Regions from separate parts of the Homo sapiens genome. Here region 2 is linked to region 1. The links come from fine-mapping of genetic effects on gene expression. Tissue or cell type: subcutaneous fat. Region 1 holds a variant in brackets; the other region holds the start of a gene. All regions are shown on one strand. Distances are between the middles of the regions.

Region 1 (8,229 bases):
ACCAGCTGTCAGAGCCCAGCGAGGTGCGCAGCTACGTGGACCCGTCCACCGACGAGCGCCTCAGCTACACGCAGCTGCTCAGGCGGTGCCGTCGTGACGACGGCACCGGCCAGCTGCTCCTGCCACTGTCGGACGCCCGCAAGCTGACCTTCCGTGGCCTGCGGAAGCAGATCACCATGGAGGAGCTGGTGCGCTCGCAGGTCATGGACGAGGCCACGGCGCTGCAGCTGCGGGAGGGCCTGACCTCCATCGAGGAGGTCACCAAGAACTTGCAGAAGTTCCTGGAAGGCACCAGCTGCATCGCTGGTGTCTTCGTGGACGCCACCAAGGAACGGCTCTCGGTGTACCAGGCCATGAAGAAGGGCATCATCCGCCCCGGCACAGCCTTTGAGCTCCTGGAGGCGCAGGCGGCCACCGGTTACGTCATCGACCCCATCAAGGGACTGAAGCTGACGGTGGAGGAGGCTGTGCGTATGGGCATTGTGGGCCCCGAGTTCAAGGACAAGCTGCTGTCGGCCGAGCGCGCCGTCACTGGGTACAAGGACCCCTACTCTGGGAAGCTCATCTCCCTCTTCCAGGCCATGAAGAAGGGCCTGATCCTGAAGGACCATGGCATCCGCCTGCTGGAGGCCCAGATCGCCACGGGCGGCATCATCGACCCTGAGGAGAGCCACCGGCTGCCCGTGGAGGTGGCCTACAAGCGCGGCCTCTTCGATGAGGAGATGAACGAGATCCTGACCGACCCCTCGGACGACACCAAGGGCTTCTTTGACCCTAACACGGAGGAGAACCTCACCTACCTGCAGCTGATGGAGCGTTGTATCACTGACCCCCAGACGGGCCTGTGTCTCTTGCCGCTGAAGGAGAAGAAGCGGGAGCGGAAGACGTCCTCCAAGTCCTCCGTGCGCAAGCGCCGAGTGGTCATCGTGGACCCCGAGACGGGCAAGGAGATGTCAGTGTACGAGGCCTACCGCAAGGGCCTGATTGACCACCAGACGTACCTGGAGCTGTCCGAGCAGGAGTGCGAGTGGGAGGAGATCACCATCTCCTCCTCGGACGGCGTGGTCAAGTCCATGATCATCGACCGCCGCTCCGGGCGCCAGTACGACATCGATGATGCCATCGCCAAGAACCTCATCGACCGCTCGGCACTGGACCAGTACCGCGCCGGCACGCTCTCCATCACCGAGTTCGCCGACATGCTCTCGGGCAACGCCGGTGGTTTCCGCTCCCGTTCCTCCTCGGTGGGATCCTCCTCCTCCTACCCCATCAGCCCCGCCGTCTCCAGGACCCAGCTGGCCTCCTGGTCAGACCCCACTGAGGAGACGGGCCCCGTGGCTGGCATCCTGGACACGGAGACGCTGGAGAAGGTGTCCATCACCGAGGCCATGCACCGGAACCTGGTGGATAACATCACGGGGCAGCGGCTGCTGGAGGCGCAGGCCTGCACCGGGGGCATCATCGACCCCAGCACCGGTGAGCGCTTCCCTGTCACCGACGCCGTCAACAAGGGCCTGGTGGACAAGATCATGGTGGACCGCATCAACCTGGCCCAGAAGGCCTTCTGCGGCTTCGAGGACCCACGCACCAAGACCAAGATGTCGGCCGCCCAGGCCCTGAAGAAGGGCTGGCTCTACTACGAGGCCGGCCAGCGCTTCCTGGAGGTGCAGTACCTGACCGGCGGCTTGATCGAGCCCGACACGCCGGGCCGCGTGCCCCTGGACGAGGCCCTGCAGCGCGGCACGGTGGACGCCCGCACCGCACAGAAGCTGCGTGACGTGGGCGCCTACTCCAAGTACCTCACCTGCCCTAAGACCAAGCTCAAGATCTCCTATAAGGACGCGCTGGACCGCAGCATGGTGGAGGAGGGCACGGGGCTGCGGCTGCTGGAGGCTGCCGCGCAGTCCACCAAGGGCTACTACAGCCCCTACAGCGTCAGCGGCTCCGGCTCTACCGCTGGCTCCCGCACCGGCTCGCGCACCGGCTCCCGGGCCGGCTCCCGCCGCGGCAGCTTTGACGCCACCGGCTCCGGCTTCTCCATGACCTTCTCTTCATCCTCCTACTCCTCCTCGGGCTACGGCCGCCGCTACGCCTCGGGGTCCTCGGCCTCCCTGGGGGGCCCTGAGTCTGCCGTGGCCTGAGGCTGCCTGCGCCCACCCCGCTCTGCATGCGGCCCAGCCCGGCTCCCACCGAGGCGCGGGGGCCGTTTTCAACGCTTAAAGGTGTCTTCCTCCCAAGTGGTGCCTAAAGTTTAACCAAAAAGACCAGACTAATATATTAATATATATCTGCTGTCCAGACAGCCTGTATCTTGGGGGACAGGGCTGGCCCAGCCCTGCTGGCCGCCTCACCCCCTCGGGTCTCCTCACTCCCTTCTACCTGCCACTCACACAGCCAGGTGCCTTGGAGGGTCCCAAGCTGGGCCCCAGCCCACCCTCCTGTCTTCCCAGGGTAGCCCGCCTGCCAGTCCTAGCTGCACAGGGCAGCTGGGCCCAACCCTGTCTGTAGAGGGCCCTGGTGTTTCTAGCACTGGCCTGCACGGTGGGCCTTGCTGGGGACGGGGGGCCCCAGTCAGCCTCTCTCCCAGTCTACCCAGAGAAGCCCCTTCCCCATGGGAAGACGAGGCCCTCGGGCCCAGCCCCCACAGTGCTGTCTGATCTGTGCTTTCCAGCTCACCCCCCACACTCACTCCTGAGACCCCTGGCCTCCGGCGTCAGCCTCCAGCCTCTGTTCCCCTAGTAAGTGCCTTCCATGTCGGCCTCTAACCCCAGGCCCCGAGGACCCAGACCCAGTGGGGAGGCGGACGTTCCAGCCGGCATGGCTGGGAACTGCAGACCTGTCCTCCTGGTGGGTCCAGGGGCCCCTCCAGCTTGTGGAGCCCCACACTGGGGTGCCGCCTGCCCGTCTCTCTCCCATGGAGCCCCAGCCCCCTTTGGGCCCAGGGACACCAGCCAGGCTCTGTGCTGACCCTCCTGTTGCACCCAGCCCTGGTCTCAGCAGCGACCACCCCTGCCTCCACCCTCTGAGCTTTGCATGTTCCACTAACCCCGGGCGGGTGGCAGGTGGAGGTGTCAGGCTGCTGGCGCCTCTGCAAGGGCAGAACACTAACCTGACCGTGGGCGGGGCCTTGCGGTATCCGCCCCCAATAAAAGCAATTCCAACCTTCCCGTGCCTCCGGCCTTGTGTCTTGGGGTCAGGTGTGTGTCAGGGACAGGGTGGACATTGCAGCCCCAGGCTCCAGGCTCTGAGCTCAGCCACTATGGCCAGTCAGGGACGTACGTCTGTGTGCAGCAGAGACCAGGTGCTCGCAGGAGGGCAGCTGAGAGACCCTGGGCAGAGGGATTCAGTGTGGGGCAGGGTGGTGGCCACACTGAGGCCGGGCCCCCTGGGACCTGCTGCTGGTCAGGTGCTGACCAGTCTCCCAGCCCCACCCTTCGCACTATAAGGGGCTCACGTTTCCTTATCTGAGGCGGGGTGTGGTATGCTCCCATATCAGTCACTGGCTGTGGCCCCTTGGCCTCCGGGGAGGGTGCCACATGGCCCCGGGTCAGTTGGTTGCTGCTGGCCGGGCAGCCCTCCAGAGAAGGGGCCACAGGCAGTGGGCCTAGTATGAGGGCCTCCACCACAGTCTGCCATGTCTCGGCCCCATGCCCATCACACTCCGGGGATTCCATCTGGATGGGCTTCTCCAGGCTTCCGACTGGTGGCAGTTTCTGGGAAGACTTAGGGGAGGAGGGAAGCGGGGCCACCCCAGCCTGCAGTAGCCACTGGTCCAGGCTCAGCCGATACTCTTTTTTTTTTTTTTTTTTTTTTCAGGCAGAGTCTTGCTTTGTCACCCAGGCTGGAGTGCAGTGTCATGATCTCGGCTCACTGCAGTCTCCACCTCCCATGTTCAAATGATTCTACTGCCTCAGCCTCCCGAGTAGCTGGGACTACAGGTGTGCACCCAGCTAATTTTCATATTTTTAGTAGAGATGGGGTTTCACCGTGTTGGCCAGGCCGGTCTCGAACTCCTGGCCTCAAGTGATCCTCCCTGCCTTGGCCTCCCAAAGTTCTGGGATTACAGGCGTGAGCCACTGTGCCTGGCCTTCGCCTCTCCTGCTGGTGGGACCCAGGCGTTCACCCTGGGGTCCAAGTCCTAGTCTTCTCGCTCTTGCTGGGCTTTACCCTCCCTGCCCCGGCCCGGTAGAGGGTGCTCTGCCTGCTGGTCCGCTGGAACAGGAGTGGCCCCGGCCGGGTGACCCACAGCCATCGAGCGGGGCAGTGCCTTACTCTGTCCCAGGTGGCTGGGTTTTAGGACCTCTGAGCCCTCACAGCTTAAGAGTTGCAGGGAAAGGAAGCACAGGTTGTCAGTGGGTCACTGGGAGCTGGTGAGTGGGCGGCCACTCCTGCCTCTACCCCTTGGTCCCCAGACCCATGCGGTCCTCTGTGGGGCCACTGATTTAGGCCGAAGACCACATCCTGGAGGACGGGACCACCACAGTCCCAGAGGGTTGGTGTCAGGACGGTGGCACCAACTCTTTCCGAGAAGCTCGCCGACGCTCTAGGCTC[T/A]GCGGCGCCCGTGTTCCCGCTCCCTCTGCACCCCCTTGCCGGAAGCAGTCAGAGGCCCTGGGGGCCGTTACACAGGAGCCCGTCTCCCAGGGCAGACACGGAGGCATCGTGGGCTGGAAAGGTGGGTCCGTGCCTGGAATACCAGCTGTTGTCTTTCCAAGGGGAAGGGGCCTCCAGGGCTGAGTTTACCTCCAAGTGACCGGTTGGTCTCTGGCTGGTTTTGCGTCCAGGGCCCCTGGTGGTCTTTATGGCCAGAGGACGGGATGTGCTGCTGCCGACAGGAGCTGGGCTTGTCATGGGGCGCCTGGCTTCGTCTGGTCCTCCATCGCTCCAGGCGGGAGCCGTGTGGGAGCACCGGACGCTGCGTCACTGGCCGCGTCATTGGCTTGTGGGTGGCTGGGTGCCCGCTCGGCAGCCGGTGCCCCTGGTGAACACCCACAAGTCCCCACGCTGGTGTCCACCCGGCAGTTCCATTCCCCAGTCCGTCTTCCAGCGTTGCCCTTCTCAGGCCCTGACCGGCCAGCCGAGCCCTTCCCCAGCCCTGTCCACGTGTGTCCTTACCATGAGCTGCTCTCCTCTCCTCATGAGAGGCCAGGGATCGCCCCGACCCCTGACTCCAGGGCCAGCCCAAGTGGAGTGGTCCGACTACCATGAACCCAACCGCCATGAAGCAGGCCGGGCTTGGCCCCCACCCAGTCACAGGGACCCTCTGAGGCTGTGGCCTGACTGGCGGGCAAGCTGGAAGCTGCGCCACCTGCCCGTGCAGCCCTCTGGCTCTCATGGCTGGTGCCCGGCAGTGCACCGCCCCTTACCCTGGATCCTCACTGTGCCGCTGACCTTAGCCTGGGTGGGTCTTGTGGCACTGGCTCCTGGTGGGAGCTGTGGCCACACCATCCCCAGGAACTTCTCTGAACAGTCCGCAGTTCTCTGTTGCAGTCGGGACCTCCTTGCTTCAAAACTTAGGGCTGGTGCTGCAGCTCTTTTGGGCCTTGCCGGAGACCCCTTGACGCATCCTTCCCCACCTGCGGCAGGTGCTCCTGGTACAAGAGCTCTGTTAGCTCACAGGGCCTGAGTGGCAGGACTTTGTTCCACAGCCTCACCAGCTGTGCTACCCTTCCTTTTCCTGGGCCCCACTCAAAACGAGAAGCCTCTGTGCCAACTGATAAAAAGATCTGTGTGTGGTATCGTGCCGGGTCTGGTATCGTGCTGGGGCTGGCATCATCCTGCCGTGTCTGGTATCGTGCCGGGCCTGGTATCGTGCTGGGTCTGGTATCGTGCCGTGCCTGGCATCGTGCTGGGTCTGGCATCATCCTGCCGTGTCTGGTATCGTGCCGTGTCTGGCATCATCGTGCTGTGTCCAGAACCCAGAGGCCTGCCATCTGCCAGCTTCTTTCCTGGTGTTAGGAAATGCAAGGCTCAAAACTCGTTCTTGACCTTGGACAGGACGTCCTAACATGCCCAGATCTCTGGACTCCTAAAACCTTCATGACGTGACCAGTCCCTGAATCTTGGCTCAGCCTCTCTCCTGCCCTGGAGTGCCTGTGTCCTAGCAGGACGCTCAGAACGCCTGCCACTTCCCGCTTGCCAGGCCTGGTGGGTGCGATGCTGTCAGTGAGCGGACTTGCGTGTTTGCGCTTTGGTCAGTTGTCTGTGTGTCTGCATGTCTGTGCGCTGCTGTCCACCTCGTGTGAATGGGAACTGCCCCTGACCTCCTCCCGGTGCAGTGGAGAGCCCTCTGCCCAGCCAGGAGCCACAGGACACCGTCTGAGGCTGTGAGTCTGCTCCAGGAAAGACCACAGACAGCACAGCAGCTGGAGTTGGCACTGTGGGGAGACGCTGTGGCTCAGCCGCCGTCCACCACAGTCTACCCAGCTCTTGTAGGGACCTGACCAGCAAATTAAGTGGGAAGATGGTGGCCATCACCCATGCACCCTTTAGGCATCTGCGGTGTTGCTGACGCCGCCGTTTTGACCAGGAGGTTGTATTGTTTTATTTCCTTGGCTGGAGCTGGGGGTAGTTTCTAAGGTTTCCATTTGGTCTTTCCTACTACAGTGATTTTTACTCCATGGGCCAAAAAGCCCATGTGAGGATTTGCTGTTGAGCATGCCAGTTCCAATTGCACGTTCCTGGGCTGGGAAATGATGGGCTGAGGCCTGGGCCAGGACTCCAGGTCCTTCCTGACCCCATATTCCCTACCCAGATGGGAGCCTCTGAGGGTGCTTTGCGCCCCAGGTGTCAGCGTCCACTCAGACCCTGATCTGGGCGTCTTCCTCTCCCCAGGGCACAGTTGTCCAGATAAGCATCTTTGGGTCCCTGGAGGGACTGGGGGGTCACTGCTGTCCACACTTGGAGGCGTGAGGCCTTTCACAAGGGGACCTGGCCGCTCTTTCCATTTGTGGGCTCTGGCTCTGAGAACTGGCTGACATAAGGAAACAAAGCAAGTGGTTGTGTTTTCCATCAGAGCAGTGGGCCTGGACTCACTCACTCGTTTTAAAATTTGTGGGTGCCGCGTGCTGAGCCAGTGTCCTCCGAGTGTGCCCCGGGACCACCTGGGAGCTTGGAAGGGGCAGAGCCTTGGCCGCGGCACAGACCAACTGAGTCAGAAATCCTGGGCCTGGGGCTCAGCCAGCTGTGCTTTAAGGAGCCCTCCAGGGGCTGCCATGTGCCTGAGTGTGAGAACCAGTGTAGTGAGCAGCTCCTTGCAGGCTGCCCATCTGCGTCTCCTGTCAGACTGTGGCGCTCCATGAGCCAGCTTCATGGGCCCCCATGGTCAGGGTCTTCTGGCCGCTGCCCCCACCTTCCCTCCCGCTGCCAGCACGTCTCAACAGGTGGGAGCTCCAGCGGCTGCACTGCCATTGGTGCCAGGCTGACAGCATCGCCAGGCAGTCGGTGGTGTTCTGACCAACTGTGGCATCTGTGCGCCAGGACCACGTCTGCGCCCCCCCATCCCAGGCAGGCTCCCCAGGGCGGTGCCTCAGTTACACATGGTTTCTGGAGAATTCTCAGAAAAGGGGTGCAACAAGTGGGGAGGGCAAGGAGCTGGCAAAGGGGGCTGGAGCCGTAGCCCTGCCCCACGGACATCTGAGAGGCAAGGGCACAGCTCAGAGGCTCTGACTCCTGCCCACACGTGGGTCTGAGCTGCCTGTGGGGTGGCACGTGGTCCTCAGGCATCTCTGAATGAGCAGCTCTTGTCAGCCAAGGGCAGTGTTCTGGAGGAGGACACAGGTGAGCGTCTGCAGCAGCTGGGGAGGGGAACAAGGACACCCAAGGGGATCTTGGAGGATCGGCCACGGCAGCTGCCTTCACGGTGGCAGCTCCTCAGTAGCAGCGCAGACGGACCGAGAGACCCTTGAAAACTCCTCCCACGTAAATCCGGGTAAAACTTAAATAGCTTCTCGGGTGCATTCTGACGTTACCAAAAAGACAAGGAAACCACCAGGGGTGAAAGAGAAAGGAGGGTCCTCAGTGCAGCGGCTGAGCTGACGCTTCCCGAGGAATTTGCTGATCCTGGAAGGCTGAAGCCTCGGGTTTTAAAGGTCCTCAGGAACAGGAGGCCGGGATGCGGGCCGTACAGCCAGAGGCCTCTGTGGCATCCGGATCCTCAAAGGGCTGCACCCAGCGAGAAAGCGGGTTCTCCGACGATCCAGCCACAGAAGGGAAACACTGGATCCTGCCTGG
Region 2 (8,000 bases), 180 kb before region 1:
CCTAGCCCTCAGCACCCCCAGAAGATGGACGGGGAACTTGGACGCTTGTTTCCCCCATCATTGGGGCTACCCCCAGGCCCCCAGCCAGCTGCCTCCAGCCTGCCCAGTCCACTCCAGGTGGGCACGGGACTGGGCAGGGAGGGCCAGGACAGCCATGGGCATTGGAAAGAGCAGGGAAGCAACAACTGTCTCTCTTCCCCCAGCCCAGCTGGTCCTGTCCTTCCTGCACCTTCATCAATGCCCCAGACCGCCCTGGCTGTGAGATGTGTAGCACCCAGAGGCCCTGCACTTGGGACCCCCTTGCTGCAGCTTCCACCTAGCAGCCACCAGAGGTACCAGAGGTGGCACAGGCAGGGGAGGTGGGGGGCAGGGCAGAATCCACAGGAATGACCCAGCTCCTCCCCCACAGGTTACAAGGGGAGAGTGGCCCTTCCCTCACAAGTCCGACATCTCCAGGCCCCCACTGAACTCCGGGGACCTCTACTGACTGCTTGCTGGGACAGTCACCAGGGTTGGGGGGAAGGGCCACAAAATGAAACCATTAAAGACCCTTAAGAGCCAGCAAGCATCCCTTTCATGGTGTCTCTGCAGACCTGCCCCATCCTAGCCAGCGATACAGGGAGACAGGCCCTCATCAGCAGGCGGGGCTCCCCAGCCAGACCCCGGTGTTACTGAAGAATGGGCCCGGACCCTGAGCCTCAGTGGTCAGGAAAGCATGGCATGGGGATCTCTTCCCAGACCCCAGAGGCCTACAGAGCCCCCCACCCAGCTGCTCACCACTGGGCTGAGGCTGCTGGGGTGTGCCACATACTGAGCTGCAGCCCCCACCACTGACCTTGTCTCCTACTGTCCACCCTGGTCCCCCAGGCCTGCACCTCTCTTGCCTGCAGGCCTATTGGTACCACCTTTCTCCCATTCAGCTCTTGCCTTCCTTGGACTATGGCCACCACTCCCCTCAGCTCTTGCAGCTAGGACACCAGCAATGAAAATGGGTGTTTTCCTTCCCTTCCTAGGGACGAGGGAAGCTCAGGAGCTGAGTCCTGCACCAGGTCACTGGGCCGGTGCTGGGTCATGTCTCTGTGACCCTCCTAGATAGCATCCACTGTCTCCCTCCCTCAGCAGCATGCTCCTGTGGGAACCCAGCTACTGCCAGCTTCTGGCCAGGACCCACCACCTAGCTACCCTGTGGACTGCTAGGAGGGGCCACTCCATGACACACATCCTGTCTGTCTACTTGACTCCTTCACCTGGCTGGGAGCCATCCCCTTCCTCAGCCCAGCCCAGCAATAAATAGCCCCTGCCCTAGACCAGGCCTTTCCCCTGTTAAAATGCAGCCAAGGTTCCCTGCTGCCATCAGAATGGGGGCCAAGTGGTTCAACACCTTAACACTTGGCTGTTCATTCCAACAGGTCCCTGGGCCACATCCTGCCTGGCTAGGCCCTTTTCAGCTCTGTGCTCAGACACACCCCACCCCACCAAATGCTGACTTCCTCTAACATGCAGTTCTCCGCTTTCTGTCCCACACCCACTGTCTGGACTCCCAGCTACCAGTCAGTGCAGGGCATTGCTGGCCACACTGCATGGGACATCCTGGGAGCCTTGTGAAGGCAAGGGTCTTGGTATCAGAGTTCCTTGCAAACGTGCACTCTTTCCATATAATAACTCAAATATGTACATTGAGAAAATTAATTTATTCCCATGATGGGGGCTGAAGGAGGGCCCAGAGCTAGAGCCTGGTCTCCTGCCCCCTTGCCTCTTCTTCCAGATGAAGAGAGGCTTAGCTGAGGCCTGAACAGGCCTGGGATGGCTCTTGGGCTTGAGGGCCTGTTCTGGCAGGATGGCAAGCAGACACTGGACAGGGTCACTTGGGCGGCCGATATGCCAGCTTCCGACTCTTCAGGACTGACCACTTGTGCCGCTTTATGGTGTAGACCAGGGGCACCAGCAGAGCCATCATCATCAACATCTGCAGACAAGGAAGGCTCAGAGAAGGGAGTGGGGAGGAGCCCTGCCCAGCTCCCAGCCCTTCTCTGATACCCACCATGGCCTCCCAACCCTTTTACCTTGAGCCCCATGCGTTTTCGATGGTCGTGCTCTGGCTCAGATGCCCAGCGCAGGAAGGTGCACACATCCTTGGCTATCTGGGACATGGTAGCTGGGGTGCCTGGCCAACGACAAGCAGTGAGGGCTATTCTCAGGCTCATGTCCAACCTGGGATCATGCCCCCCCTCTGTGAAGCAGACACTGCCCCTACCCAAGGCATCAAAGGGGCAGTACCCTCCACCGGACATACGCAAAACTGAAGGAGCCCAAAAGCCTCCTGAGACATGCACAGAAGACGCCCCAGACAAGAAGTGGGCAGGACCTCCTGGACCCAGGAACACAGGGAAAGCATCCCTGGGGGTAGTGGAGAAGTATTCCACATGCCCACTGCCAGACTGGAGGCCTCTTACCATCGTCAAACTCTAAGACATCTGTGTAGATGGGAGGGGCCATGGCAATGGCCTGGCCAGGAAAGTAGGGGTTGAAGTAGAGACCTTCCCGCAGTGACACCCCGGTGGGTGGCTCGCAGTAGCCCGTGAGCAGGGAGAAGACGTAGTCCTCACCACCATGCCTAGGACCAGATCCATGGCTCCTTAGTTCCAAGCACAAGTCAGCCCTTCCCCCATCTCTCCAGCACCACCCCATGGGCAGCCCGTGTACCTAGCTCGCACGATGTAGCTGAGGTCAGGGGGCAATGCTCCGTTGTTGGCAGCTCGAGCAGCCTCACTGTTGGGGTATGGTTTTGGGAAATAGTCGAACAGCTTCCCTGGCCGCATGAACATCTCCCCATCTTCATTGGGGCCGTCTTGAACCTCCACCTGCCACCGAGAGCCTCATCACAACCCTGCCATCTCAACAGTGGGAGCCCTGAGCCCTGGGTCCCAGGCATCCCCAGACCCCACACCTCCGCAGCCAGCTCCTTAGCTTCATCCTCCGTGTAGCACACGCCCACCAGGTGGCGGTAGGCCACGAAGTCCATGCTGTGGCAGGAGGCGCACACCTGCTTATATACCTGGAAACCCCTCCGGATGCTGGAGGGAGGGAAAGGGTTAGGAAAGCTGAAGATTCCACCTTACCAGCTCCACCCAGAACCTCCCGCTGCCAGCCAGCCAGCCAGCTGCACACCTGGTGTGGTCCAAGGAAGAGAGGAGGCCACGGTGAGACCACGGATAGCTGGGGGGGTGCAGCTCCAGGTCACTGGCACTCACAGCCGAATGCAGAGCCATGGCCAGCCCCGCACCCCCTGCCGCCAGCATGCCCAGCGCTGACAGCATCACTTTCCGGCCTCGGGAAAGGCCAGACTTCGACGACAAGGCCACTGCCTGCAAGATCTCCGCTCAGCGCCTGCCAGGACACCACCCAGCCCTACCTGGGGATCTGACTCTCAGCGCCCACCTCTCCACCCAGCAATGGCCTCCTCCTGCAGGGCACCAGACGCACACCCTGTCCCACTACCCACCCCATCCCTCTCCGCCGCTGACCCCTAGACCGTGATTCGCTCTCAGGAGAGGGTGTTCCTGGATCCTGAGCCGGGGATCAGACCGAAGTGACCAAGGGTGCTGGGACAGGCCAAGGTCACAAGCAGCTGGCCGAGATCAGGCTGGGGTCACTTCAGGACGCGGGCCCAGTTTGGACAGCCAGCCGCAAGAGCCGTCCTGGGCGCGCCATTCGGGAAAGCCCCAGCCCCGCCACGGCAGCTAGCCCGTCCCGCCAACCCCCACGCTGGGGACGGGCTCTCTGCCGTTCGGAGAGGTGGGCGCCCAGCCCTGATCCCACACGCTCAAGGTCGGCAGGCAGCTGGGACCGGGGACGCTGGGTGGCCGGTACCGCTTCCGCGCTGCCCAGGCCCGCGCCCGCAGCCTCCCCGCCGTGACCTTCACGGAGATGCGGGGCCGCGCGGAGGCCGGGGCCCGGCCCAGCGCTCACCTGAGGTGTCCGTAGCGGGAGCTGCCCGGGACGCGCGCTGCACAGCAGACCCCGGGCACGCGCGCCCGGGAGCCCCGCGCCCCGCGGGCCCAACACTACCCCGCGAAGCGAAGCCGCAGCTGCCGCCATCTTGGCCTCCTCCGCGCGGCCGCCACTCCCGTCGGCCCCTGGGGCGCCACGAGAGTCAAAACCTCGCGAAAGCCGGGGAGCGCGGGGCGGGGCCGGGCTCGGGGGCGGGGCCTGTCGGGTGGGCGGGGACGAAGCGCGCTGGTCCCGGTCGCGTCAGTCAGGGGCCGGGGCACCGCCTGCCTCCCCACGCTCTTCGGGTTGTCGTGGAAACTGGCGGTGGGGCGGGGCCCCGTCGCGTCTCTCTGTTGCCGTGACAGCGCCACGCTCCGCCCGGCGTTTCCCACGCCGCCTCCGAGACCCCGACGCTCCTTTTCTCCACCTTCCCAGGCTGCGCGATGGCCGGGTGGAGGGTGCCCCTGCAGGCTGAGGACCTCCAGAGAAAGGGCGGCTTGGAGGGCAGCCCGGCAGAGGGCGCGGGCAGGGGTCTCGGCCGCAGGCAGCGCGTGACAGCGGGAGGCTGGGCCCCCAGGCTGAGCACCCTGTTCTCCTTCATTCCCTTGACTCATGGCCCGACGCGTGATGCGCGCCTTGGGTCCTAGCGCTTTGGGAAGCTGAGGCGGGAGGATCGCTTGAGCCCCGGAGGTGGAGACTGCGGTGAGCCGAGATCGCCACTGCACTCCAGCCTGGGCGATATCGAGCGAGACCTCGTCTCAAAAAAGTAAGTAAATATGATCTTGTTATGTGAGAATATTTTTATTGTAAAATATTTAAAAAGTAAGCAAAGGCCGGGCGCGGTGGCTCACGCTGTAATCCCAGCACTTTGGGAGGGTGGGGCGGGCAGATCACGAGGTCAAAAGATGGAGACCATCCTGGTCAGCATGGTGAAACCTTGTCTCTACTGAAAATACAAAAATTAGCCAGGCGTGGTGGCGCGCGCCTGTAGTCCCAGCTACTCTGGGAGGCTGAGGCAGGAGAATCGCTTGAACCCGGGAGGCGGAGGTTGCAGTGAGTAGAGATCGTGCCACTGCACTCCAGCCTGGATGACAGACGGAAGACTCCCTCTCAAGAAAAAAAAAAAAGCAAATAAAATTTAAAAACTAGGCTGGGTGCGGTGGCTCACGCCTGTAATCCCAGCACTTTGGGAGGCCCCAGATCACTTGAGGTCGTGAGTTTGAGACCAGCCTGACCAACATGGAGAAACCCTGTGTTATATGTAAAATGTTTATTTAGAAACAGAACGCTTGTTCCCTGGTACCATAAGGAAAGATCAGCATTCCGACAAAAAGTTCTCTCAGCAAGTCAATTTTACTTTCTGCAGAGAGGGTGCTCCTCACAGATGGAAAAATGGTGAGAGCACACCTGAATAAAGGAGAGAAGCTATTTTTATCCCTTACACAGCTTGTCCCTGCTACTGTGTCCTGTCTCCATTGGCTAGAGCCAGATGGCACAATCTAAACTAAAAGTCGACTGGCTAATAATTTAAAACTTTTCTAAATAGATAAAGGCAAGGGAGAACAGAGGAAAAGAGGAAGTTGCTTATGCCAAATAGGGAAGGGGCACAGGCTGTGAGCTGGAACGTGCCTGTGAGCACGTCCAGCACAAATATTTTGGTTAAGGTACAAGGACATAGAATGTACTACCTGCCTGTGAGCATGTTTAACAGCTACATAAGATAGAGCTTAAAGAATTATTAGCAAAACCAAACACCACATGTTCTCACTCATAGGTGGGAATTGAACAATGAGAACACTTGGACACGGGAAGGGGAACATCACACACCGGGGCCTGTTGTGGGGTGGGGGAGAGGGGAGGGATAGCATTAGGAGATATACCTAATGTAAATGACGAGTTAATGGGTGCAGCACACCATGGCACATGTATACATCTGTAACAAACCTGCACATTATGCACATGTACCCTAGAACTTAAAGTATAATAAAAAAAGAAAAGAAAAGAATTATTAGCACAAAACAAGGAGGCTTGAAGGAAGTTAGTCTGTAAAAGAAACTATTATTTCTAACACTTACGATTTATTCTTTAACAAGAAGGGAAACTTTGAAGAGGAAACTTTTTACTTTCTACACACCATCTCTACTAAAAATACAAAATTAGCCAGGTGTGGTGGCGCATGCTTGTAATCCCAGCTACTCCAGAGGCTGAGGCAGGAGAAGCGCTTGAACCCAGGAGGCGGAGTTTGCAGTGAGCAGAGATCACGCCACTGCACTCCAGCCTGGCAACAAGAACGAAACTCTATCTCAAGAAAAAATAAAATAAAAAATAAAATAAAAATCCAAAATTAGTTGTCAGTGAAAATGGAGAAAGACCCCTAAAAAATGTGCCCACCCCTCACCCAATAAGAGCAAGAAAAACATAGCAAAAATGATCAGAATCAACTTTTACAAAGCTATGGAAATTAATCAAAGGCTGTCGTCATCCCAGGGGGTGTTATTCAATTAAACAGGTGACTATCAGTAAGAACAGTGGCCTTTGTGGGTTGTAGCTTTCCCTGGTTCAACCCTGCCCTCCAGCTCAGTGGTAATCTTGGAAATAAGAACCTACATTCCTAGTTACTGTGGGAGCAAAATGCCCTCATTCGCACAGAACCTCCGTTATTGAACGTGTCTGATGGCTGCCTAGAAGACTCCTACCACATTGGCTCAGGGCTTGCCCAGTGCCAGCTGCCTGAGGTGATGGATAACAGTTGCCACAAACAATAGACTAAACAAAAAGCTAAAAAGGAAGAGCAAGGGAATGAGATGTCCACAGGCGCTTTGAAAAGCCCAAAACATTTTTGGGAATACAGGTCATATACACACGGAGGACTATGGATATATACTCAGGAGAGACCTGAAAAAGCCCTAAACTCTCACCTCTGGCTGACCTTGAGGCTCTACACAAAGGGAAGTCTGAGGAAGAGAAATTTAAAAAAAGAAAGAAATATGAACTGGGCCTCAGAGACCTGTGGGACACTATTAAGCATACCAACATATGCATAATTTCAGTCCCAGGAGTAGACTAGACAGAGAAAGGAGTAAGAATACTTAAAAAAAAAAAATGGCCAAGGCTGGGCATAGTAGCTCACACCTGTAATCCCAGCACTTTGGGAGGCCGAGGCAGGCAGATCACCTGAGGTTGAGAGTTCAAAACCAGTCTGACCAACATGAAGAAACCTCGACTCTACTAAAAATACAAAATTAGCCAGGTGTCATGGCGCATGCCTGTAATCCCAGCACTTTGGGAGGCCGAAGTGGGCAGATCACCTGAGGTCGAGAGTTCGAAACCAGCCTGACCAACATGGAGAAACCCTGTCTCTACTAAAAATACAAAATTAGCCAGGCATGGTGGTGCATACCTGTAATCCCAGATACTTGGGAGGCTGAGGCAGGAGAATTGCTTGAACCTGGAGGTGGAGGTTGCAGCGAGCCAAGATTGCACCATTGCACTCCAGCCTGGGCAACAAGAGTGAAACTCTGTCTCAAAAAAAAAAAAAAAAAGGCCAAAAACATGCCATGTTTCATGAAAAACATGAATCTGCACATCTAGTTTTTTTGTTAAACAAACACTAAGTAGAATAAACTAAAGGAGACACATAACAAATTGTTGAAAGACAAAGAATCTTGAAAGCAGCAAGAGAGAAGTGACTCATCACATAAAAATAATTCTTGGCCGGGCGCGGTGGCTCACTCCTGTAATCTTAGCACTTCGGGAGCCTGAGCCAGGCAGATCACCTGAGGTCAGGAGTTCGAGACCAGACTGGCCAATATGGCAAAACCGTGTCTCTACTAAAAATACAAAAAAAATTAGCCGGGCCTGGTGGCATGCACCTGTAATCCCAGCTACTCCGGAGGCTGAGGGAGGAGACTCGCTTGAACCCGGGAGGTGGAGGTTGCAGTAAGCCAAGATTGGACCATTGCACTCCAGCCTGGACAACAAGAGCAAAACTCCTTCTCAGAAAAAAAAAA

Alleles and levels. Alleles are on the strand shown, and positions count from the first base shown. SD is a standard deviation of normalised expression in the study named.
For the expression in subcutaneous fat of the gene that starts at base 4,122 in region 2, T is the low allele of the variant in region 1 and A is the other (small effect, 0.33 SD a copy in FUSION).

Evidence for each region. PIP is the estimated chance that this variant, and not a neighbour inherited with it, causes the effect.
Region 2: it holds the start of CYC1, and the variant in region 1 is fine-mapped to the expression of CYC1 in subcutaneous fat (FUSION, PIP 0.95).

What each region holds. Positions count from the first base shown.
Region 1 is chr8:143,910,089-143,918,317 of GRCh38, reverse strand. It overlaps PLEC (plectin), which reads left to right. Exons shown (of 32, transcript NM_201384.3): 32 at 1-3,165. The coding sequence ends at 2,141. Among named protein-coding and RNA genes, the nearest start is that of PLEC, 25 kb to the left of the region's middle. RefSeq lists a silencer at 2,011-2,206. The variant T/A (reference allele first, on the strand shown) is at 4,552.
Region 2 is chr8:144,091,198-144,099,197 of GRCh38, reverse strand. It overlaps CYC1 (cytochrome c1), which reads right to left and starts at 4,122. Exons shown (of 7, transcript NM_001916.5): 1 at 3,970-4,122; 2 at 3,169-3,365; 3 at 2,948-3,074; 4 at 2,704-2,861; 5 at 2,454-2,614; 6 at 2,064-2,164; 7 at 1,673-1,966. The coding sequence starts at 4,098. The coding sequence ends at 1,862. It overlaps SHARPIN (SHANK associated RH domain interactor), which reads left to right. Exons shown (of 9, transcript NM_030974.4): 7 at 1-117; 8 at 204-332; 9 at 410-561. The coding sequence ends at 320. RefSeq lists enhancers at 2,904-2,953, 5,418-5,712 and silencers at 3,853-4,048, 3,994-4,283.